7 linked regions of the Homo sapiens genome follow. The protein of the gene in region 6 interacts with the protein of the main gene of each other region in a biochemical or structural test. Each region holds a gene or a part of one and is shown on either strand. Other genes may lie near its edges.

Region 1 (3,500 bases), on a different chromosome or scaffold from region 6:
ATGGGCAAAAACTGGAAGCATTCCCTTTGAAAACTGGCACAAGACAGGGATGCCCTCTCTCACCGCTCCTATTCAACATAGTGTTGGAAGTTCTGGCCAGGGCAATCAGGCAGGAGAAGGAAATAAAGGGTATTCAATTAGGAAAAGAGGAAGTCAAATTGTCCCTGTTTGCAGACGACATGATTGTTTATCTAGAAAACCCCATCGTCTCAGCCCAAAATCTCCTTAAGCTGATAAGCAACTTCAGCAAAGTCTCAGGACGGAATCATTTTTTAAAAAAATTGGCCGGGCGCGGTGGCTCACGCCTGTAATCCCAGCACTTTGGGAGGCCAAGGCGGGTGGATCACCTGAGGTCAGGAGTTCGAGACCAGCCTGGCCAACATGGTGAAACCCCGTCACTAAAAAAAAAAAAGCCGAGTGTGGTGGCATGCGCTTGTAATCCCAGCCACTCGAGAGGCTGAGGCAAGAGAATCGCTTGAACCCGGGAGGTGGAGGTTGCATTGAGCCGAGATCACGCCACTGCACTCCAGCCTGGGCTACAAAAGCGAAACTCCGTCACACACACACAAAAAACAATCAACCAACCAAACAAAAAACACCTATGCCTCTTCCGGTAGTTGATCTGCTGAAGAATCCTCCTCTAACAGCATTTAGTGCTTAACGCACAAGTGAGCTGGGCACGGTGGCTTACGACTGTAATTCCAGCACTGTGGGAGGCCGAGGAGGAGGATCATTTGTGGCCAGGAGTTCAAGGCCAGCCTGGGCAACATAGTGAGACCCAGTCTACAAAAAGAAAAAAAAAATAGCCGGCCATCGTGGCGCGTGCCTATGGTCCCAACTTACTTGGGAAGGATGAAGGAGGGAATCTTGAGCCTATGAGGTGGAGGCTGCAGTGAGCCATGATTGCTCCACTGTACTCCAGCCTGGGGATAGAGCTAAAGACTGTCTCTAAAAGAAAATCAACAAATGGCTCACTATTGTTCATTGTTTCAAATACAAACTTCCAAACCTGGATGTCTATTTTTAGTAACCTCATTTTTTGATATTTCTGCTAAGCAAATATGCCAATAAATAGCTTGTTTATTTTTACCTCTGCACCTTCCCAGGAGAATTTCTTATTAGAGGGAAGCTGTCTACAAAACTCCCTTCCTCACAGCCTTGCACTTTGACCCAGTAATACTGCTTCCAGAAATCTAGGCCGGACATGCATAAAAATTTATGTTCTACATAGCAATTATTGATAAAAGTGGAACACTGGAAACAAAGATCTAAATATCTTGCAATATGGGATTGTTAAATAAATTATGGTCCATGTAGTATAGACACAGAAATACCAGGTAGCTATTAAAATGGTGTTGTAGTCTTCAATTTTTTTTTAAGGTACCTATTCCTGGTATAGGTTTGTTGTAGCCTTCTATTTTTATACCATAGGAAATTGTGCAAACTACATTGTCAAGTTAAAAAAATAAAGATAATCATTTCTTCTGGTGACATGTAATAGATGCAAAAACGATGTGGTTTCATTTTTTCATTAGAAAGTATAATAGGCGTGGTAGCTCACACCTGTAATCCCAGTACTTTGAGAGGCTGAGGCGGGCAGCTCGCTTGACCACAGGAATTTGAGATCAGCCTGGGCAATGTGACGAAACCCCATCTCTACGAAAAATACAAAAACAAAATTGAGCTGGGCCTGTAGTCTTGGCTACCCAGGATGCTGAGGTGGAAGGATCACCTGAGTCTGGTCAAGGCTGCAGTGAGCCATGATTGCGCCACTGCACTTCATCCAGCCTGGGCGAGAATGAGACCCCGTCTCAAAGAAAAAAAAAAAAAGTATAATAATACCCAGCTCATTACATCATTAAACAAAGTGGGGAGGGCTTGCATGAACTGGTGACAAAGGTGTAGCTTCTACAAAGGATTATGATGAATACAGCTATAGCACCTGAGGTCCAGAAAAACGAACAAAAAACTTCTGTTAAACTTATCTCCTTAACAATTCATTTTTTGATTCTCTTTTCTCTTCTTCTTACAAATTAGTTTAAACCTGAATAAAATCTTTTAATTCAAGCTTTTGTAATATGGAACTTGTACATTATTGAGTAAAACATTTAAAAGTCATGGTAAATGTTAAAATAACTGAGGTTTTATGACAAAATTGAGTCCTTCACATCACATGGGAAAGAATATAAGATTAATCACTGGATTCATTGATTAATTTTTTTGCGTATAAAAGATTTTTTTTTTTTTTTTTTGAGATGGAGTCTTGCTCTGTCACCCAGGCTGGAGTGCAGTGGACCGATCTCGGCTCACTGCAAGCTCCGCCTCCCGGGTTCATGCTATTCTCCTGCCTCAGCCTCCCGAGTACCTGGGACTACAGGCGCCCGCCACCATGCCCGGCTAATTTTTTGTATTTTTCTTAGTAGAGACGGGGTTTCACCATGTTAGCCAGGATGGTCTCGATCTCCTGACCTCATGATCTGACCACCTAGGCCTCCCAAAGTGCTGGGATTACAGGTGTGAGCCACCACGCCTGGCAGCATATAAAAGATTTTTAAGCCTATGAACTTGATTATCTCACTATGACCTGTAATGTTTTTCAAAATGTGTAAGAGCATTTATATCTTAGGGTATACAGTGTGTCTATTGAAATAAATAAAATGGCATATCTTTAAAAATAATTATGGTGAAGTCATTTTGATAGACTAAATTTTGCCTATGCTGTCTTGATTTTGAAATTTGGTACGTTGCGTGGTTACAGTTTGTGAAGCACTTTTCATTTGGGTAACCTCTACTCTCTCCAGTTGCACTTAAAGTCACTTAAAGCCACAGAGAGGTTTTTCTACCTTCAGCACCCATTTTAGGACAATTTCTGGTAATTGCTAAGTAAATGTCAGCTAGTTGACTTCCTGCCTGACCTGTCTTGGCCTGTTTCCTGCTCATTAGCATCTCCACTAGAGGGCAGGCTGGGCTGCTGAGGAGAGAAGGAAAGGAGTGTTTTCATTCTCTAGCTAACCCTGTCCTCCTCTCCTCTACTGCAGCTCCCAGCTTGGTGACCACACAGAGCTCCTGGGACAGTTCCGTGTTTGGAGTGACTGATGCTCATACATGTGTTTGAACATTGCCTTATAGTATTCTCTGTGTCGATGGAAATGGAGAGTGTGCTAATAATTTACCTAGGGACTTAAAATGTGTTGACTAGAAAGCCACTAAGTAACTATGGGATGTTCTAATACTCTCATGTCTTGTGTCTGTAAGAATCAGATTTTTCTGTGTGTAGGGTAGGAGCTATAGATGTAATATAAGTAAATACCCTTTAGTGGCCCGGGGTAGTGGCTCACACCTGTAATCCCAGCACTTTGAGAGGCTGAGGCAGGTGGATTGCTTGAAACCAGGAGTTCAAGACCAGCCTGGGCAACATAGTGAGACCCCATCTCTAAAAAAAAAAAAAAAATTAGCCAGGTGTGGTGGCTTACACCTGTAGCTACTCGGGAGGCTGAGGC
Region 2 (3,500 bases), on a different chromosome or scaffold from region 6:
CTTGTGATCTGCCTACCTCCGCCTCCCAAAGTGCTGGGATTATATAAAGAGTGGAATCAGGAAAAGCATATGAATATTCACCCTGAGACACTTATCTCTTTGGCCCCTAACTGTCTGGGCTTTTGAGCAAGTAGCTGGCACTGTGCCTCTGAGGACTACTAAATGCCACCTTCAGCCCAAAAGAAGCCTTGTCAGTCTCTAATCTTCCTTTCCATGCAGATTGCCACTGCCTTGTCTCACGTTCTTCTTTCCTGGGTGACACTGGCTTTCTATTTGTCCCCCTTATCTCACTCTGTCTTTCCTTGAGTCCATCATCTGGTCAACATTTACTGAGCTGAAGCTCCCTGGAGCTTACTCACTGAGCCTAGTAGAGTGCGGTCTACATTCCCATGGAGGAGATAAACCTGCGCTAGGGACTGTGGTAGCTCAGAGGGGCATGTACATCAGACGGAGGCATTCTGGGACTGAGTTTGGTACACCTGGGGTCTGATCTCCTTATGCAGAACATCTACCCTGCAGTCTGCATGACTGTGGTCAAGTCACTTTTCTAAACAAAAATCTGTAGCCTACAGGCTCCCAGATGCTAGCCTGGAGACTGATTCACTAGGTTGGGGTCCCAGAACTTGTATCCTGCTCAAGTTCCCCAGGGGGTTCTGGTGCACAGCTGGGTGTGGGGCCATTACCCCGTGTTGCCTTATTGATTTGATATTTAAGACCCTCTCTTTCCTGGCCTTGCAACCAAACCACCCACTTTTCCGCCACATGCTGTAATTGGAGCGCTCCCCAATCCTCTTACAGGGTTGTTGATTTCCTACACTTTATGCCTTTTTCCATCAGTCCCTTGTGCCTGAGGGCAGGGACCATGTCTTTACCCTGCATCTTCATTGCTCCAAGGACTTTGCACTTAAGGAGCTCTGACAGCATGCCTTAGATGAGCAGATGTGTCAGGGGCCCCGTGGTAGTTGGAATGAACATGGAAATTATCTTTCACAATTCCAATCTCAAAATATATATATATATATAATGTATAAATATATATAATTTATATTTATATATTTATTATATATAAATATAAATATATATATATATATTGCCTAGGCTGGAGTGCAGTGGTCCAATCTCCGCTCACTGTGACCTTTGCTTCCCAGGCTCAAGCTATCCTTCCACCTCAACCTCCCGAGTAGCTGGGTAGCTGGGACTACACGTGCAAGCCACCACATCTGGCTATGTTGTTGTTGTAGAGACAGAGTTTCGTCCTGTTGCCCAGGCTGGTCACGAATTCCTGAGCTCAAGTGATCCACCTGCCTTGGCCTCCCAAAGTGCTGGGATTACAGGTGTGAGCCACCACATCTGGCCTAAAACACTATTACCCAATATTTTTTCATGCCTGTATCTATTTGCAGTAGTTATTCCTGGTTCCTGCTAACCAGTGGATAAAAGCACATCTCTGTGATTTGGGGTAGTTTCTTGAAACACGTCTGTTCTCCCTTCCCAGACACATCATCTCAGAGTTGGAGCACCTGACGTTTGTCAACACGGATGTGGGCCGCTGCCGGGCATGGCTGCGGCTGGCCCTGAACGATGGCCTGATGGAGTGCTACCTGAAGCTGCTGCTGCAGGAGCAGGCCCGCTTGCATGAGTACTACCAGCCCACCGCCCTGCTCCGGGATGCTGAGGAGGGCGAGTTCCTCCTTAGCTTCCTGCAGGGCCTCACGTCCTTGTCCTTCGAACTCTCCTACAAGTCTGCCATCTTAAATGAGTGGACGCTCACCCCATTGGCCCTGTCTGGGCTTTGCCCGCTTTCTGAGCTGGACCCTCTCTCTACCTCTGGTGCAGAACTACAGCGGAAGGAATCTCTGGATTCCATTTCCCATTCTTCAGGCTCTGAAGACATCGAAGTCCATCACTCGGGCCATAAGATACGGAGGAACCAGAAGCTGACTGCCTCCTCCCTCAGCCTGGACACGGCCAGTTCATCCCAGCTGTCCTGCAGCCTAAACTCTGATAGCTGCTTACTCCAAGAGAATGGCTCCAAGAGTCCAGACCATTGCGAGGAGCCCATGTCCTGTGACTCAGACCTGGGCACAGCAAATGCTGAGGACTCAGACCGGTCTCTGCAAGAGTGAGTACGCTGCCCCCACTCCTTCCCATCTTCTCTCTTCCCTCCTTTCTTTCCTCTCCTCCTCCCTTTCTTCCCATAGCATGTGATTGTCTGTTACTGAACTCTATTAGTAATTAAAGAAAGCCAAGGGAGTCATCGACTTCTCCAGGGACTGGAGTAGCTGGGAACTGTAGCAGGCAATACAGGCATAGTGGAGAAAGTGGACTTAGAACAGCTTAGAGCTGGTTTGGGCTCCAGCTCTGCCCCGGTGACTTTTAGCAAGTTACTTGGCCGGGTGCGGTGGCTCATGCCTGAAATCCCAGCACTTGGGAGGCTGATACAGGAGGATTGCTTGAGCCCAGCAGTTCGAGGCCAGCCTGGGCAATGTAGCAAGATCCTGCCTCTAAATTAAAAATAAATAAATAAATAAAACAAAAACTGAAAACAAACAATAACAACAAAAAAACAAGATACTTAGTCTCTACAAGGCACAGTGTAAAATATTGTTGTCTTCATCTAGAAGGAAGGAAACTAATAGGTCAGAGTACATTTAAAACGTCCAACAAATAGATGAAACATAACGCATAAGAGTGTGACTTCACAGAATACCTCCTGGGGGACACAGGACCTGAGTGCTGCATGCAGGAGGTGGTGGACAGGTGGGGACAGACAGATGTGTGGAAGAGTATGTGGGGCAGATGAACTAGGCTGAAGAGAGAACTGGGCAGAGCCTTCTTCACACAGCCTTTTAAACATTTTTTTGCAGCTGGGCACGGTGGCTCACGCCTGTAATCCCAGCACCTTGGGAGGCCAAGGCAGGTGGATCACAAGGTCAGGAGATTGAGACCATCCTGACTAACATGGTGAAACCCCGTCTCTACTAAAAATACAAAAAATTAGCTGGGCATGGTGGCGGGCGCCTTGTAGTCCCAGCTACATGGGCGGCTGAGGCAGGAGAATGGCATGAACCCGGGAGGTGGAGCTTGCAGTGAGCTGAGACCGCACCACTGCACTCCAGCCTGGGTGACAGAGTAAGACTCTGTCTCAAAAAAAAAAAATAAATAAATAAATAAAATAAAAAATTTGCATAGATAATCTTTTTATGGTTAAAAAAAATCTAAAACATATACAGTGAAAGCCTTTCCCATTCCTGTTCTCCCTCTACCCTGTTCTTTCCTCCCACCCCTAAAACCATAATAATTTCCTGTATATTCTTCCAAATTTCTAAATGCATCTACAACAAATACCAGTATAAAGATTTTCAGCTGGGCGCAGTGGCTCACGCCTGTAATCCCAGCACTTTGGGAGGCCGAGGCGGGCGGATCACAAAGGCAAGAGATCGAGACCTTTCTGGCTAACACGGTGAAACCCCATCTCTACTAAAAATACAAAAAATTAG
Region 3 (3,500 bases), on a different chromosome or scaffold from region 6:
CTCCAAGAGGTGCCTGTGGTCAGCAGAGGAGGGACCTTGTTCCACTGAGGCAGGAAGATGAGAGAGACACTGGGTTCTCTGATGGGTTCACCAGCAGACCCTGTGAAATTCATAATGGCCCCTAAGGTAGGGGTTGCCTGACATGTTCAACTTGGATTTAACCCTTAAGGCATAAGAAGCCGCTGAAAATGTTCAGACGTTACAAAACTAGGGCCGGGCACGGTGGCTCACGGCTGTAATCCCAGCACTTCGGGAGGCTGAGGCGGTTGGATCACCTGAGGTCAGCAGTTCAAGACCAGCCTGACCAACATGGTGAAACCCCGTCTCTACTAAAAATACAAAAAAAAAAAAAATAGCCAGGCGTGGTGGTGCGTGCCTGTAATCCCAGCTACTCGGGAGGCTGAGGCAGGAGAATCACTTGAACCTGGGATACAGAGGTTGCAGTGAGCCGAGATTGCGCCGCTGCGCTCCAGCCACAGAGCGAGAAACTGTCTCAAAAAAAAAAAAAGAAAGAAAAGAAAAAACCGGCGAGGACTGAGGTAAACCACAAAATTGTCCAGGCTTTTTATGTGGAGGGAATTTGCAGACTCACGTGCAGAGAACCCAACAAACCCAGACTTTGGGGCAGCTGAGGCAGCTAGAATGTGTGGGGTGTGGTACCAGAAAGGAAGGAGTTACGCCCAAAACAAAGAGCTCCAGCAATCTGCGCGTGAGCCCGCTTGCATCTTGGGTTGGATCCGATTTGCTGGTGCACACAGTGAAACCTCGTGGAGCTGGACCAAGAGCAACTTGAAGGGGAAGAGTAAGTGTAAGGGGACAGATGAGCAGGACTCACACAGGGCCGTGGTTATTTCAGTTCCCACCAGCCAGAGTATAGAAGCCACTTTAAATACAAGGAGCTTTCATGACACCTTAGAGGAAACACAGCTTGGAAGTGGCGCAGAATAAGCTGCAGAGGAAAGGCCACTCCAATGCCGTGGAAACAAGTGCAAGGCAAGCCCTGGAAACACCACTGCCTGCTAGCACGGAGTACACACAGCACTCTTGAGAGAAGGAAGCCAGGCGAAGTGGCTCACACCTGTAATCCCAGCACTTTGGGAGGCCGAAGCAGGCGGATTATCTGAGGTCAGGAGTTCAAGACCAGCCTGGCCAATATGGTGAAACGCCGTCTCTACTACAAAAAATTAGCCATGTGTGGTGATGGGCGCCTGTGGTCCCAGCTACTTGGGAGGCTGAGGCAAGAGAACCACATGAGCCCGGGAGGCAGAGGTTGCAGTGAGCCGAGATCGCATCACTGCACTTCAGCCTGGGCAACAGAGCAAGACTCCTTCTAAAAAAAAAAAAAAAAATTCACGTCCAGAATCTAATCAGTCATGGGCAGACAAGCCAAAGCAGAAAAATGGACTTGTCACTGGAGGGGGTCCAGTAGCAGGCCCAGTTTTGATAGGATTAGCCAACAAAGACAGTAAACAATTATAAAAATGTTCCCTGTGCTCAAAGAAATAACACAAAAATGTGACTGAGGGCTGGGCGTGGTGGCTCACACCTGTAATCCCAGCACTCTGGGAGGCCGAGGCGGGTGGATCACGAGGTCAGGAGATCAAGACCATCCTGGCTAACATGGTGAAACCCCGTCTCTACTAAAAATACAAAAAATTAGCCGGGCGTGGTGGCGGGCACCTGTAGTCCCAGCTCCTCCAGAGGCTGAGGCAGGAGAATTGCTTGGACCCGGGAGGTGGAGCTTGCAGTGAGCCAAGATCGTGCCACTGCACTCCAGCCTGGGTGACAGAGCGAGACCCCGTCTCAAAAAATAAGAAAACATGACTGAGAAATGGAAGATACAGAAAAGAAGCAAGTTGGACAAAATGTCACTGGAACTAATCTCCCAAGTAGAAGAATTCCACATTGTTTACTGAGATAGTTCCCCTTCGAGGAGGTGATGCTTAACTCCTCACTCCAGAAGCCTGGGCTTTACCTAGTGACCCTCTTCCAAAGAGCAGAGCACAGAAGCAGGAGGAGCAGCTTTCCAGTGGAGACCTCCAGCAACACAGCCTCACCAGGGACCATGCTCACCATCAGCAGTGACATGCGTATCACTGTTGTGTACTCTTTTTTTTTTTTTTTTTTTTTTTGAGACGGAGTCTCGCTCTGTTGCCAGGCTGGAGTGCAGTGGCACAATCTCGGCTCACTGCAACCTCCACCTCCCAGGTCCAAGCAATTCTCCTGCCTCAGCCTCCCACGAAGCTGGGACTACAGGCACCCGCCACCTCGCCCGGCTAATTTTGTTGTATTTTTAGTAGAGATGGGGTTTCACCGTGTTAGCCAGGATGGTCTCAATCTCCTGACCTCGTGATCCGCCCACCTTGGCCTCCCAAAGTGTTGGGCGCGTCAGCCACCGCGCCCGGCCTGTTGTGTACTCTTGATAGGATGATGAGAACAGCACTCTACCTCTTTGATCTTCCTCCCAAAAACATACGTAACCCCAGCTAATGATGAAAAAACATCAAACAAATCCAAATTGAGAGACATTCCACAAACTGTTTGACGAGTCCTCAAAATTGTCAAGGTTCTCAAAAACTAGGCAAGTCTGAAAGGTGCCAGAGTCAGTGGGACTGAAGAAGATGTGACAACTGGATGGATTTTGGATGATGTCCTGGAGCAGAGGAAGGATTGGGTAAAAAGCTAAGGAATCTGATTAGAATGTGGGTCCTAGTTAACAATGTGTCTAATGTTCTTGAGACAACTGTACCACACAAAGGCAGGATGTTAATGATGGGGGACACTGGTGTAGGGCATGTATTCTAAAGTAAAAAGGTGGTTCTTCAGAGTCACCGGAGCGGTTTAACAAAACATTAGAAACTTCAGAAGAAAAGATTCCTGAACTAAAAGCAATGGAAACTGTCCACAGTGATGTACAGGGAGAAAAAGGACTGCAAAAACTTAGCCGAGCTTCAAGGACATAATATCATGTGGTCTAACGTATTTGAGGTTCCAGAAAACAGTGGGGAAGAGAATACAGAAATATGACCAAAAGGCTGGACACGGTGGCTCCTGCCCGAAATCCCAGCACTCTGGGAGGCTGACATGGGTGGATCGCTTGAGCCCAGGAGTTCAAGACCAGCCTGGGCAACATAGCAAGACCCTGTCTCTATAAATAATACAAAAATTAGCCGGGCGTGGTAGTGCCTGCCTGTGGTCCCAACTACTCGGGAGGCTGAGGCGGGAGGATCACCTGAGTGCAGGAGGTGGAGGCTGCAGTGAGCCATGATCGTACCACTGCACTCCAGCCTGGGCAACAGAGCCCTGTCTCAAAAAAAAAATTATGGCCAAAATTTTTCCCAAATTTTTGAAAAGCTGTAAGCTCACAAATCCAAGAATATCAGTCTTAAGCAGGATAAAACCAAAACCATATCAAGGTACATTATATAATCAAAGTGCTGGAACAGGCTGGTGAAGAGAAAATCTTAAAAGCTCCAGAAGAGGCCGGGCGCGGTGGCTCA
Region 4 (3,500 bases), on a different chromosome or scaffold from region 6:
GAAGAAGAAGAACAAGGGTGGTGTTGCAGTAAAAGCACATCAGGTATGTGCTTTTGGCAGTTTTCTTTTTCTAAAGTCAAGGAAGAAGAGAAAGGCTATAAATAAAGCATGAGTACATTTTTAGTGGCTTAATATCAACTTCTATTGCAGGTGAAAAATCACATGTGGATTTTTGTAAATGCCTTAATTGAAAACCCAACCTTTGACTCTCAGACAAAAGAAAACATGACTTTACAACCCAAGAGCTTTGGATCAACATGCCAATTGAGTGAAAAATTTATCAAAGCTGTGAGTACTTAGAGGAAAATAAAAATAGAAACACCTGACTTTATTTTCCATTGCACTTCTTAGCTCTGCAGAAACAATGATTCTTCTCATAGTGAGCTTCTCCAAGTCTTCCCAATCTGAAAAGGAAGTAAAAAAGGGCTTTACTTTAACTGATTTACCAAAGACTTAATGACCGTCTATATTTCAGTATTTCCCAATTACATTTTACCATTAAGCTTAGATCACTTTTGAATTAATCTAGCTGTTTAACAAACACCCTCACTTAAATGCCTAAGACTTGCTTTCAGTCAACACATCCAAAATTGAATTTGTTACCTCCATACTCACTGATTTGCCCATACAAGCAGCCCCCCACTCTCCAACAAAAAAACAACTTCCTATCTTAGTAAAAAGCCCCAACCAACCTCTAGGTTGTATAAACAAGAAAGCTGGGAGCCTTCCTTTATTTCCCCTCCTCTCTAATCCGGTCAATAAGAATCATCTCTTGGATGCTGCAGTAGCTTCTCACCATTATCTCTTTTTTGGTTTACTACAATAGGTTCTTAACCTTCATACTGGTTAAGTCCTTTCCTTGGAATGCTTTTGAGTGACTTTTGTGTTAAAACACCCATTTTTATCTTCACTCTCATTTGAAATCTTTCAATGACTTCCACTCAGGGAAAGTCCAAATTCCATAATTTGGCCAACAAGAAAGATCTGCTGTAATCTAATTACACCTACTTCTCCAACTCATCTCAGTGCCAGTTTTTCGTATATTGTCCTGTTGCTTTTAAATTACTGAAAAGCACAGTGCTCTTCCCCTCCTCAGAGTTTATTCACATGCTAATCCCTCTGCATGAAATACATCCTTTTCACCTGGCTACTTTAGGTCTTGTCCTTTCCTCAGGAAAGCCTTTACTTTCTACCCTTCCCCCCACCTAAGTTGGTTCCAATATAATATTGAACATACCTTATTAGCAAACTTTTTGCTTATCCATAACACTTATAACACTGTAACTTATTTTATTTCTGTCTTTTTTTTTAGGCAGAGTCTCGCTCTGTCGCCCAGGCTGGAATGCAGTGGCACGATCTCGGCTCACTGCAACCTCCGCCTCCTAGGTTTCAGTGATTCTCTTGCCTCAGCCTCCCGAGTAGCTGAGATTACAGGCATGCATCACCATGCCTGGCTAATTTTTTTGTTGTTGTATTTTCAGTAGAGACAGGGTTTCACCATGTTGGTCAGGCTGGTCTCAAACTCCTGACCTCAAATGATCCACCCATCTCGGCCTTCCAAAGTGTTGGGATTACAGCCATGAGCCACTGTGCCCAGTCTTTTTTTTTTTTTTTTTTGAGACAGAGTCTTGCTGTGTTGCCCAGGCTACAGTGCAGTGACGTAATCCTGGCTCATTGCAATCTCTGCCTCCCAGGTTCAAGCGATTCTCCTTGCCTCCTGAGTAGCTGGGATTCTCCAGCCTCCTGAGTAGCGGGGATTACAGACATGCACCATCACATCCAGCTAATTTTTGTATTTTTAATAGAGATGGGGTTTTACCATGTTGGCCAGGCTGGTCTTGAACTCCTGGCCTCACTTGATCCACCATCCTCGGCCTCCTAAAGTGCTGTGATTACAGGCGTAAGCCACTGCACCCAGCTATGTCTGTCTTCTATGTTGTGTCTTAAACTTGATGAGGACAAGTGTCTCAATTTGTTTTATTTGTGTCTAATTTTATTTATTTATTTTTAATTTTTTTTTTTGGAGACAGCTTCTCACTGTTTCCCAGGCTGGAGTGCCGTGGCTTGATCTCAGTTCACTGCAACCCGCGCCTCCCAGGTTAAAGCAATTCTCCTGCCTCAGCCTCCCAAGCAGCTAGGATTACAGCCATTTCACCACCACCATGCCTGGCTACCCTTTTTTTTTTTTTTTTTTTTTTTTTTGAGACGGAGTTTCACTTTTGTCACCCAGGCTGGAGTGCAATGGTGCGATCTTGGCTCGCTGCAACCTCTACCTCCTGGGTTCAAGCGATTCTCCTGCCTCAGCCTCCCGAGTAGCTGGAATTACAGGTGCCCACCACCACGCCAGCTAATTTTTGTATTTTTAGTAGAGCCGGGGTTTCGCCATGTTGGCCAGGCCGGTCTCAAACTCCTGACCTCAGGTGTTCTGCCCACCTTGGCCTCCTAAAGTGCTGGGATTATAGGCGTGAGCCACCGTGCCTGGTCTAATTTGTTTTAACCACTATATCTCCAACAAGTAGCTCAGTGCTAGCACAATATAATTATATAGTAAATATTTATTGAACGAATGAACCAAAAGGAGCAGCTCCCTCAGTGGTGATAACCTGACATGGGAAGATGTGCCACCCTCTATCCAGAAATTATTGTTCTACATCTTTTTAATTTTTGAATCATTTTTATTTGTATTAAGGCTCATTTGTATTCTAGATTTCTGATAGATCCCTTCTTCCCTAATATGATCCCTAATATGAATCTTCTCGTTTTCAGGCCATTGGCTGTGGTATTGTAGAAAGCATACTAAACTGGGTGAAGTTTAAGGCCCAAGTCCAGTTAAACAAGAAGTGTTCAGCTGTAAAACATAATAGAATCAAGGGAATTCCCAAACTCGATGATGCCAATGATGCAGGTATATATTTAATAATGTTTCCAAACTTTTAAGTCTTATAGTTGTTATTTTATTCATTAATGGCATACCACGGATATTTATTTTTCCCTTGACAGAATAACTATATTCAACAGAATAACTTGTTAAAAATCGGCCCGTTTCCTATTATGGAAGATTTAGGTCATTTCCATGTTATAAATAATATTGAGGTGATTATTTTGGAGTATAAAACAAGAATGTTTATATTATGATCTATTACCTAACAAATAATTTTGCTCATTATATAGTAAATTGTGTTTTATCACAAGGCTATAAACAGCATGTTCAAGTTAGTATATTTGAGGTTGAACTAAATGTGCTAATATTAATATGTATATTTTTATTTTAGGGGGCCGAAACTCCACTGAGTGTACGCTTATCCTGACTGAGGGAGATTCAGCCAAAACTTTGGCTGTTTCAGGCCTTGGTGTGGTTGGGAGAGACAAATATGGGGTTTTCCCTCTTAGAGGAAAAATACTCAATGTTCGAGAAGCTTCTCATAAGCAGGTAGAATATAAGACGATCTTCAGAATCTAAATCTAATTTATAATACAAGACTTTATGCTTATATTTAATT
Region 5 (3,500 bases), on a different chromosome or scaffold from region 6:
ATTTTCTTGCCTTTTTTTTTTTTTTTTTTTTTTTTAAATTGGGTCTCATTCTGTCACCAGGCTGGATATTCCAGTGGTGCAGTCAGAGCTCTTTGCAGCCTTGACCTCCTGAGCTCCTACCTCAGCCCCCTGAGTAGCTGGGTCTACTAGGTGCAAGCCACCACATCGGGCTAATTTTTTTTTTTAAAGAGTTGGGATCTTACTGTGTTGCCCAGGCTGGTCTTGAGCTCCTGAGCTCAAGCAGTCCTCCCACCTCAGCCTCCTCAGTTGTTGGGATTATAGGCATGTGCCACCACACCCAGCTAAAAGTTACTTATTCAGGAGGCTGAGGCATACAAATAGCTTGAACCCAGGAGGCAGAGGCTGCAGTGAGCCGACATGGTGCCACTGCAGTCCTGCCTGAGCCACAGAGCTGGGCTTGAAAGTTATTTTCTAATAAAAACTATTTTATGGTAGGTTTTGTGGATTATTGAATACAATCTGGCATTCTGTTTAATATGTATGTTTTCCTGAATGAGGGGGTACATTGTAATTTTAATTATTAAACTCACAATGTTTTTGGTTTTAAAAATAAAAATTTTAGGAGCAAGCAGTGTTCCTGCCTTCTTTTCTGAAGATGATTCTCAATCGAATGACTCAAGTGATTCTGATAGCAGTAGTAGTCAGAGTGACGACATAGAACAGGAGACCTTTATGCTTGATGAGCCATTAGAAAGAACCACAAATAGCTCCCATGCCAATGGTGCTGCCCAAGCTCCCCGTTCAATGCAGTGGGCTGTCCGCAACACCCAGCATCAGCGAGCAGCCAGTACAGCCCCTTCCAGTACATCTACACCAGCAGGCAAGTCTGAAAACTTAGTATTGCTAAGAATACTTAGATAGATTTTTTAAATTATGCATGTTCATCTGGGGATAAAATTAGTTTTATGATAGTTCCTCATTGTTTTGTTGAGTTTCAAATATAAAAAATATGTACATATGATTATAGCAGGGTTTCCCAGTCTTTGCATTATTGCATCTTTGGACTGGGTAATTGTGGGAGGCTGTCTTGTGCATTGTGGGATGTTAGGCAGCATCCCTAGCCTACACCCACTAGATGCCAGTGAAACCCCTCTCACCCTTCTTCCCCTCCCCTTGGCTCCCACAGTTGTGATAACCAAGAATGTCTGTAGATACTGCCAAATGTGTAGCCCCTTTGGCGGGGGGAGGTGGCGTGGGGGTCAGATTTCCCCTGGTTGAGAACTTTATATTAATTCTTGTCCCCTCCATACTCCTCTCCCCAAAATAGTGTGGTTTAGGCAAAGTTTTTTGCTTGGGTACCACAATTGACCATTTAGATTTACGTAAGTATATATAATCCCAGAGAAACACAATTAGCAACTGACATTAGCTCATTGTGGTTGTCCTTTTTCCTTATAGCAAGTTCAGCGGGTTTGATTTATATTGATCCTTCAAACTTACGCCGGAGTGGTACCATCAGTACAAGTGCTGCAGCTGCAGCAGCTGCTTTGGAAGCTAGCAACGCCAGCAGTTACCTAACATCTGCAAGCAGTTTAGCCAGGGCTTACAGCATTGTCATTAGACAAATCTCGGACTTGATGGGCCTTATTCCTAAGTATAATCACCTAGTATACTCTCAGATTCCAGCAGCTGTGAAATTGACTTACCAAGATGCAGTAAACTTACAGGTATGAAACCACTGAAAAGTTTCCCATTCCACTATTTTTTTTTGGCTGTCAATTATGAGAATTCCAGTATTAGGGGAATTAAATGTTAGAAACGTTTACATATTGACATACTGCTGCTGTATCGAATTTAGCTCTATTTGGATAGTTTTAACTATTTTAGTTTGGTCTTCATAGAACTATGTAGAAGAAAAGCTTATTCCCACTTGGAACTGGATGGTCAGTATTATGGATTCTACTGAAGCTCAATTACGTTATGGTTCTGCATTAGCATCTGCTGGTGATCCTGGACATCCAAATCATCCTCTTCACGCTTCTCAGAATTCAGCGAGAAGAGAGAGGATGACTGCGCGAGAAGAAGCTAGCTTACGAACACTTGAAGGCAGACGGTATGAAATTCTTCATATATACAGAACGTCCCCAACTTAAAATGGATCCTCAACTTACAATTTTTTGTTTGTTTGTTTGTTTGTTTTTTTGAGACGGAGTCTCACACTCTTACCCAGGCTGGAGTGCAGTGGTGCCGTCTCGGCTCACTGCAAGCTCCGCCTCCTGGGTTCATGCCATTCTCCTGCCCCAGCCTCCCGAGTAGCTGGGACTACAGGCACTTGCCACCCACGCCCGGCTAATTTTTTGTTTTCTTAGTAGAGACGGGGTTTCACTGTGTTAGCCATGGTGGTCTTGATCTCCTGACCTTGTGATCTGCCCACCCTGGCCTCCCAAAGTGCTGGGATTACAGGCGTGAGCCACAGCGCCCGACCCCCAACTTACATTTTTTTTTTGACTTTGTGATGGGTTTATTGGGGGTATTAAATGCGTTTAGACTTTATGCGTTTATGATGAGTTTATCAGGACATAACCACATCTTCAGTCAAGGAGTATCTATACTTGCATGTTTAGATAGAATCTTTGTATCCTAGAAGGTTAAAGCTTTTTAGTTGCTATTATGTAAGACCTCATCTTACTGTGAAGGGAGAAAGAAATGACTTGCTTGCATTACTTAAATTGTTGAGGCAGAATAGGCTAGTTATCATCCAAGCTGTTTTTAAAAATCCATTCATATCGTAGGAATCTGATACTAAAGCCTTTTTATTTTTGAAGTTATTGGTCTATATCTTTGTCTCATTATCCCCAAGACCTCCCCCTCTCCTCTTAGGAAGTTATTTTGACTATAATTGGTTATGAATGTACTTTGTACTCAGGAGGGGGAAAGTATGTGTGATTACCAGTGCTGCTCTTTTTTTCTCAAATCACATTTCTTTTTTTCTGCCTCCCCTAGTCTGTTGAATTAAAATAAAATATATATCTATGTATTTGTTATGTTCTTTCTATTCAGTTATAAAGTGACCTTTTTCAGGAGTAGGTATCAGCTCAAATATTGAACATCAGAGCAATAGCAGTAATATAGTAAAAGTGCCTCATACCTGAAGTCAAAATCCAAGGATTTGGTTCTGTCTCTACCTCAGGATAAACAACTTTGTTACTCTGGGCAGATCATAAAGTGAGGAAAGACAAAGGTCTAAGAGATTACTTAGAAAGACAGTGATAGGCATCTACAGTAGAGGTAATAGTTACTAAAGTAGGGCAGTGAAGACCAAAAGGAGGGGAGAGAAGCATTGAAATAAAAAACAGAATTTAGGGCCTTGTTGAGGGATTAAGTAGCAGGGGCATCATTTATATTTAAACCTTGATCCTGAGTAACTAATAGGAAAATTAAAGAGAAAAACCTAAGAGTAGTATAATGGACAAACTTGCTTTTGAACATGTGAGAACTGGGGGAAAAAAAATGGTAGAAATGTCAAATGTGCAGAATTG
Region 6 (3,500 bases):
CAGCCTGGGTGACAAAGCAAGACTCCGTCTCAAAAAAAAAGGACGGGTTCTCATTCTGTCACCCAGGCTGGGGTACCGTGGCACCATCTCGGCTCACTGCAACCTCCGCCTCCTGGGCTCAAGGCCATCCTCCCACCTTAGCCTCCCAAGTATCTGAGACTACAGGCACGTGCTACTGCTCATGGCTGATTTACTTATTTATTTTTGTGCTTTTCATAGAGACAGGTTGTTGTGTTTCTTTAGTCTCCTTTAAGAGTGCAGATGAGCTATTTTGTAGAATGCCCCTCAGTTTTGGGTCATGCATTTTTAACATGAATACCAGAAAAGCACTTCATTGTATTAGAAGGCACTTCTGGAGCCAGGTATGGTGCCTCATGCCGTAATCCCAGCTCTTTGGGAGGCTGAGGCAGGAGGATCATTTGAGCCCAGGAGTTTGAAACCAGCCTGGGCAAATAGTGGGACCCCTTCTCTACAAAAAATTTAAAAATCAACCAGGTGTGGTGGTGTATGCCTGTGGCCCACCTACTGTGTGCCAGCTACTCAGTAGTGCCAGCTACTCAGGACCTGGCTGAGGTGAGAGGATCACCTGAGACAAGGAAGTTGAATTTGCAGTGAGGCATGATTACACCATTGCACTTCAGCCTGAGTGACAGAGTGATGACACCATCTCTTAATTTTAAAAGAGTCAGCTTATATTCCTTGGAGAAACATCTTTTTTGCACCATTGTTATGATTCAGACAGAATCCTTCCATGATTTTTTTTTTTTTTTTTTAATTTTTAGAGAAAGGGTCTCACTCTGTCACCCAGGCTGGAATGCATTGGCTCGGTCACAGCTCACTGCAGCCTCCAATCCCTGGGCTTAAGTGATCCTCCCACCTCAGCCTCCCGAGTAGCTGGGACTGCAGGTGTGAGCCACCATGTGTGGCAAAATAATAATAATAATGATAATAATAATAATAATTAGTTAATACCCAGTGTTGTTGAGGACATGAGGAAATGCATTTTCTTTCACATGCTGCTATTAGGAGTGTAACAGTGCAACTGCAGTCATAGTTCACTGCAGCCTCAAACTCCTGGCCTCAAGCAGTACTCCCACCTCAGCCTCCCAAAGTATCCTCCCATGACTTCTAACAGGATTCCTTTAAAAGAAAACATATTCCTGAAAAATGAATAGGAAAAGAAGATGAGAATTCTTTTATTTTATTTTATTTGTTATGTTATGTTATATGTTATGTTATGTTTTATGTTATGTTTATGTTATGTTATGTTATGTTATGTTATGTTATGTTATGTTATGTTATATGTTATGTTATGTTATTTTTGGAGATGGAGTCTCCCTGTGTTGCCCAGGCTGGAGTGCAGTGGTGCAATCTCGGCTCACTGCAACCTCTGCCTCCTAGGTTCAAGCAATTCTCCTGCCTCTGCCTCCCAAGTAGCTGGAACTATGGGTGCCCACCACCACGCCCGGCTAATTTTTGTAGTTTTAGTAGAGACAGGGTTTCACTATGTTGGCCAGGCTGATCTTGAACTTCTGACATCAGGTGATTCGCCCGTCTCGGCATCCCAAAGTGCTGGGATTACAGACGTGAGCCACCATGCCCAGCTGAGAATATTTTAGAAGAGATTGGTAAAATATGATGGAGCTAGCACACACTCCCCCAAACCCAGAAAAGGTTTTTAGACCTTTTTTCTTTTTCCAGCTCCAATTTATGACAATTCTAAATCTGTCTCTCAAATTGTTTCAAAAAAGGACGGATGTATACTTTGGAAATTCTAATTTAATAAGTTAATCAACTTTGTGGGTTTGTTGTTGTTTTGAGACAGAGTCTCGCTCTGTCACCCAGGCTGGAGTGCAGTGGCACGATCTTGGCTCACTGCAACCTCTGCCTCCTGGGTTCAAGCAATTCTCCTGCCTCAGCCTCCCACGTAGCTGGGATTACGGGCACCCACTACCATGCCCGGCTAATTTTTTTGTATTTTTAGTAGAGATGGGGTTTCACCATGTTGGCCAGGCTAGTCTCAAACTCCTGGCCTCAAGTGATCCGCCCGCCTCGGCCTCCCAAAGTGCTGGGATTACAGGCATTAGCCACTGTGCCCAGCCCAAGTTAATCAACTATGAAGAGAAAAATAAAATCACATAATCTTGGTTGTTCAGCCTCTCATAAGAAAGCCAAATTGTTTTTTGCTTTTCCATGTTGTTTACTTGTATTTCTGAATTGTAGAGTCAAAGGAGAAGTTCAGAGTCCCATCAGCAATGCACCTGTCATACAGGAAGATCTCATCATGTCCTGTAACACCAGATACCATTTTCAGTCTTTTCTCTCTTTCTCCTGCAGGGCTACACCAAGTCCATTGATATTTGGTCTGTAGGCTGCATTCTGGCAGAAATGCTTTCTAACAGGCCCATCTTTCCAGGGAAGCATTATCTTGACCAGCTGAACCACATTTTGGGTAAGGTTCCCGAGCCCTTCAGGAGCTAGATTTACTCAAGTTTGTACAGCTTACATCAAAGTCACTTCATTAAATTAAGAAGAGTTCTAATATACTCTTTAACCTGTGGTAGGTGTGAATTTTTAACCTTCTCTGATTTAAAATGTTAAGGACTTTTGTGTAAAAACATAAGAAAGGTAAACATCAGGAGTGGTGATAAGCAACGGCTCATATCAATTATCAGGGTTCATTCCGACTCAGAGTTGATGGTGTGTAGTCATTTACCTTGGTCCTGATAACTAATAGCTAATTTTTTTATCTGATAGGTATTCTTGGATCCCCATCACAAGAAGACCTGAATTGTATAATAAATTTAAAAGCTAGGAACTATTTGCTTTCTCTTCCACACAAAAATAAGGTGCCATGGAACAGGCTGTTCCCAAATGCTGACTCCAAAGGTAAATGTTATTTCGTTGATTAGTTTTTTCTTAGGCTTAGCTTCGCGTTTATTTGTTAAATTGTTAGGTCACTAGCCTGAAAAATGAGCCTATGGCTATTGGATAATGCTTTCTTTAGTGCTCACTCTGAATTGTTGTCTTCCCCCTTTTTTTTTTTGGAAACAGTGGCAGTGCAGTAAGGGAACCTGGTAATGACGGTCTAGTTCTCCACCTTTTGGTTTCTTTGCTAATTTTAATTTGCATTAAGGTCACTTTTTTTTTGTTTTTGTTTGAGACAGTGTCTCACTCTGTCGCCCAGGCTGGAGTGTAGTGGCCCGATCTCGGCTCACTGCAACCTCCTCCTCCCGGGTTCAAGCGATTCTTCTGCCTCAGCCTCCCAAGTAACTGGGACTACAGACGCGTACCACCACGCCTGGCTCATTTTTGTATTTTTAGTAGAGACAGGGTTTCACCATGCTGGCCAGGCTGGTCTCGAACTCCTGACCTTTTGATCTGCCCACCTTGGCCTCCCAAAACTGGGATTACAGGCGTGAGCCACAGCGTTCAGCCTAAGGTCACATTTTTAGGTCTCAGGAAGTCTAGGACCCTGCAAACAAATTACACCTTTTCAT
Region 7 (3,500 bases), on a different chromosome or scaffold from region 6:
TCTCTGCAAGAGTTATAAGCTGAATGTTTAGTCTTACTACTTGAGCTTTGTAATAATGTGGAAGATTATCAAAGGTAAAAAGATTTTATCAGAGTGCATGTTTTGAAAGAAAGAGGGTGGGGAGGGTTAGGCCTCAGTGTCTATAAATGAAAAGCATTTTAGAGTTTTAATATTTGACCATGTGATATCTCAGTACATTTATGATATCCTAATCCTTTGAAACTAAGGTTTAATGGTCTGTAGCACTTGAAAGAGGAATGTAGTGATCATTAGACGTGATGTAATAGAAATAGCCTTGTACATGGAGTCAGAAGAACTTGCTCTGAGACTGTGTATGGTTTTAGGTAAGCTATTTAAACTCTAATCAGTTTTTTTCATCATAAAAAGGATAAGACATTATTATCTTGTCTCATGGCGTTGTCAGGAGGATCAAATGGGATAATATACACAGGTGAGCTAGCTCAGCCCCTTTATTTTACAGATGAGGAAGCTGAAGCCAGAGAAGGTTCTACAAACTTAAGAGTCAGACAGACCTGAGACCAAGGCTTACCTCTATTAGTTTTGTACTCTACATTCCTGAACGAATTGTTCAACCTCTCTCAGCTTTAAAATGGAGATAATAGTATCTTATAAGACTGTTGCCGGGCGCGGTGGCTCACGCCTGTAATCCCAGCACTTTGGGAGGCCGAGGTGGGCGGATCACGAGGTCAGGAGATCGAGACCATCCTGGCTAACACAGTGAAACCCCGTCTCTACTAAAAAACACAAAAAATTAGCCGGGTGTGGTGGCGGGCGCCTGTAGTCCCAGCTACGCGGGAGGCTGAGGCAGGAGAATGGCGTGAACCCGGGAGGCGGAGCTTGCAGTGAGCCGAGATCGCGCCACTGCACTCCAGCCTGGGCGACAGAGCGAGACTCCGTCTCAAAAAAAAAAAAAAAGACTGTTGAGGAATTAATGAGCGTATGTATATATATATATATGTGTGTGTGTATATATATATATACATATATATATATATAATGCCTAGTTTAGCATATAATACATGCTACACCCTTTCCTACAGATATTATAAATGACGTGTACAGGGTTTTATACATTGCTAACAGCATTAAGACTAGAAAATCAAGGCCCTTGACTTGGGTTCAGTGTTCTTTCTGCCACACTCTGTTCTGTTTTGTCAATAATGCTTATTAACTTATTCTTTGATGTTTTTTTAAACAAATGTTGACTTTTTAAAATTCTTCTGAGGGTATATATTTGATACTCAAATATTTAATTATAGCATTTGAATACTTAGATGTCTTTAAAAATGAATGTAGTTCCTAAAAGTTGTCAGTTTTTAAAATTAATACAAGTTAAAAGCTGGTTTATAAACCTTAGGTAGTTTTACCTCTTATTTCATATTTCTACTTATGAAGCGAATGTATTAGCCCCACAATTTATAATTTATTTTAAAGGTAATTTTATCAGGTACATATAACTACAGGTCAAATCCTATTGTAAACAATGCCACTAAAATTTTCTGTCATGTTGTATGGAAGGAGTGTGTGTACACATGTATATTTGTATTAGGTATCACTTCAAATTAAGTCACCAGTAAATGTTTAGAAATAGTATTGTTTTATAGAATTATAAAAAATTATTATTACAGTGAGATTAACCTGTAATGTTTCTCTCCTGTCTTTTGGAGTATTGGTTATACTGTATTCTCTCTATACTGTTCGGGGGAGGGGGAGTCATTGCACACACACACGCACGCATGCGTGCACATATGTATTTTTTTCTCCCTGAAAGTAACATTTTCACTAGAACAAGTATAACTGTAATTGGCACAGCTGTAAAGGTTCTCAAGGCTTTGAAGAGCAAAAAGAAAACTAAAATATTCTCAAATTTTTTTCTTCCCAGGGAAGTCGAGACAACATGAGTGTGATTTTGATCTGTTTTCCAAATGCACCCAAAGTATCGCCAGAAGCAGTGAAGAAGGAGGCAGAGTTGGACAAGTACCTGGAATGCAGAGTAGAAGGTGGATCATTTAACAAAAAATAAGTAGCTTTATTAAAGAAAAATCTTCAACACAATCAAACTTTAACATTTTAGCTTTTAGATTTTTATGTGTCTTTGACAGCTAGTGTCTAGTGTATGAAAGTGGAAAAGGACATTTCTGTAGTAGCTGTTAAGATGTATGCAGTTGTCCTATCACAGTTATATTAGAAATAACAACTAGTGTGGAAAGTAACCCACATTCTGTTCAGGATACTTTTGTTTTAAAAGGCTAAAATGTTTGTGTGCTTTAAAATTCTTAATGAATTCACTGGCATGAGTAATTTTATGCCGGGAAAATCTGATTTGTGGTCTATTTAATTACAAAGAGATTGTGATGGTGATAATTTGAATACCATCTTTCTATGAAAAGCTGTGTATATTAATTTTAATCTCTAGGGCCTTTTTTCAATAACTTGAAAATCACAGCCTCATCATTAGCAACTTTATATACACAGCTTTAAAAAATTTGCTTTAAACTGTTTCAGAGCTTCTTCCCTAAGCCATAAACTGTCTCACCTAAACAAGATAGACCTCAATAAAAGACATAATATTTCTCCACCTGGCAGAAAAGTAACTGCCAAGTAAGATTAAGAAATAAGTTGAGCATTTCTGGAGTATATTTCTCATAATTCTGCAGAGACTTCCAGTTTATTGCATATATGCAGTAAAGTGTATATATTATGCAGTTTCTCTAAGTGGAAAAACTTGACATGACTTTAATAGTGTTAAAACATGAAAATGCTGGTGAGCTGAGGTAGAAAAAAAACAAGAAAAAAATTTTAAAAATAGCGTTAAAATGCATTTTAGGCTCCTAATGTCGTTAATTTGCACGTTAAAGACCTCTAATCGCATGCAAGCATTGACCTACCACACCTACATCCCACTGTGCCTGCATTATTGAAATTACTACTCACTTTAATTTTTTTTCCCCTTTTTACTGTTTGATACCAATCATAATCAGTCTGATACTAGAATCATGATTGGTTTTGTTCTTTAGTACTGTCTAGAGCTACTATTTTGTTTTTATTGCTGTCCGCCACTTGATAGTCATACATCTAGTATGTGTTTGTACTATTTAGTATTGCATTCATTGGACGTACTATTCAACGAATTTGTCTCCTTACTGTTACCAAGGGTCTTGGAATTTTTATATTTTAAATTAATCATTCAATATAAGTTATTTATAGGTATAGTACAATTTTAAAATATTTAGAATGCTACAATCATTGGTTCAAACTATTGATTCATGGGAAAATTTAAATTCATAAGAATAATATGTATAGGGATAAGTTGATATTTAATGTATTGGCACTTTAACTTGGGCAGACATGTTTTCTTATTGGTTTAAAGAAGTAATAAGTATTTTAATATTTTTACTATGAAATGGGATCCAATTTTAGAAATGAATTGCTACTTTTCTCTTTAGTGTGTACACTTTAAGTTTTAGATGGAATTATGA

The links.
Region 1: of the proteins of MAPK1 (region 6) and NRL, one has a biochemical effect on the other in vitro, tested with the Homo sapiens proteins (one study listed by BioGRID).
Region 2: of the proteins of MAPK1 (region 6) and PLEKHM1, one has a biochemical effect on the other in vitro, tested with the Homo sapiens proteins (one study listed by BioGRID).
Region 3: the proteins of MAPK1 (region 6) and HSF1 form a complex in vitro, tested with the Homo sapiens proteins (one study listed by BioGRID).
Region 4: the proteins of MAPK1 (region 6) and TOP2A form a complex in vitro, tested with the Homo sapiens proteins (one study listed by BioGRID).
Region 5: of the proteins of MAPK1 (region 6) and UBR5, one has a biochemical effect on the other in vitro, tested with the Homo sapiens proteins (one study listed by BioGRID).
Region 7: the proteins of MAPK1 (region 6) and PPM1A form a complex in vitro, tested with the Homo sapiens proteins (one study listed by IntAct).

The regions. Positions count from the first base shown.
Region 1 is NC_000014.9:24,108,450-24,111,949, reverse strand, and holds part of NRL (neural retina-specific leucine zipper protein), read left to right. Parts: intron 1-3,500. UniProt on the Homo sapiens protein: Acts as a transcriptional activator which regulates the expression of several rod-specific genes, including RHO and PDE6B. Also functions as a transcriptional coactivator, stimulating transcription mediated by the transcription factor CRX and NR2E3.
Region 2 is NC_000017.11:45,473,722-45,477,221, reverse strand, and holds part of PLEKHM1 (pleckstrin homology domain-containing family M member 1), read left to right. Parts: intron 1-1,308; exon of another isoform or gene 1,309-1,334; intron 1,335-1,495; coding exon 1,496-2,122; intron 2,123-3,500. UniProt on the Homo sapiens protein: Acts as a multivalent adapter protein that regulates Rab7-dependent and HOPS complex-dependent fusion events in the endolysosomal system and couples autophagic and the endocytic trafficking pathways.
Region 3 is NC_000008.11:144,298,104-144,301,603, forward strand, and holds part of HSF1 (heat shock factor protein 1), read left to right. Parts: intron 1-3,500. UniProt on the Homo sapiens protein: Functions as a stress-inducible and DNA-binding transcription factor that plays a central role in the transcriptional activation of the heat shock response (HSR), leading to the expression of a large class of molecular chaperones, heat shock proteins (HSPs), that protect cells from cellular insult damage.
Region 4 is NC_000017.11:40,407,897-40,411,396, reverse strand, and holds part of TOP2A (DNA topoisomerase 2-alpha), read left to right. Parts: coding exon 1-43; intron 44-150; coding exon 151-288; intron 289-2,766; coding exon 2,767-2,905; intron 2,906-3,272; coding exon 3,273-3,430; intron 3,431-3,500. UniProt on the Homo sapiens protein: Key decatenating enzyme that alters DNA topology by binding to two double-stranded DNA molecules, generating a double-stranded break in one of the strands, passing the intact strand through the broken strand, and religating the broken strand.
Region 5 is NC_000008.11:102,283,701-102,287,200, reverse strand, and holds part of UBR5 (E3 ubiquitin-protein ligase UBR5), read left to right. Parts: intron 1-583; coding exon 584-841; intron 842-1,419; coding exon 1,420-1,688; intron 1,689-1,862; coding exon 1,863-2,074; intron 2,075-3,500. UniProt on the Homo sapiens protein: E3 ubiquitin-protein ligase involved in different protein quality control pathways in the cytoplasm and nucleus. Mainly acts as a ubiquitin chain elongator that extends pre-ubiquitinated substrates.
Region 6 is NC_000022.11:21,787,646-21,791,145, reverse strand, and holds part of MAPK1 (mitogen-activated protein kinase 1), read left to right. Parts: intron 1-2,337; coding exon 2,338-2,452; intron 2,453-2,757; coding exon 2,758-2,889; intron 2,890-3,500. UniProt on the Homo sapiens protein: Serine/threonine kinase which acts as an essential component of the MAP kinase signal transduction pathway. MAPK1/ERK2 and MAPK3/ERK1 are the 2 MAPKs which play an important role in the MAPK/ERK cascade.
Region 7 is NC_000014.9:60,283,721-60,287,220, forward strand, and holds part of PPM1A (protein phosphatase 1A), read left to right. Parts: intron 1-1,903; coding exon 1,904-2,021; coding exon of another isoform or gene 2,022-2,044; exon of another isoform or gene 2,045-3,500. UniProt on the Homo sapiens protein: Enzyme with a broad specificity. Negatively regulates TGF-beta signaling through dephosphorylating SMAD2 and SMAD3, resulting in their dissociation from SMAD4, nuclear export of the SMADs and termination of the TGF-beta-mediated signaling.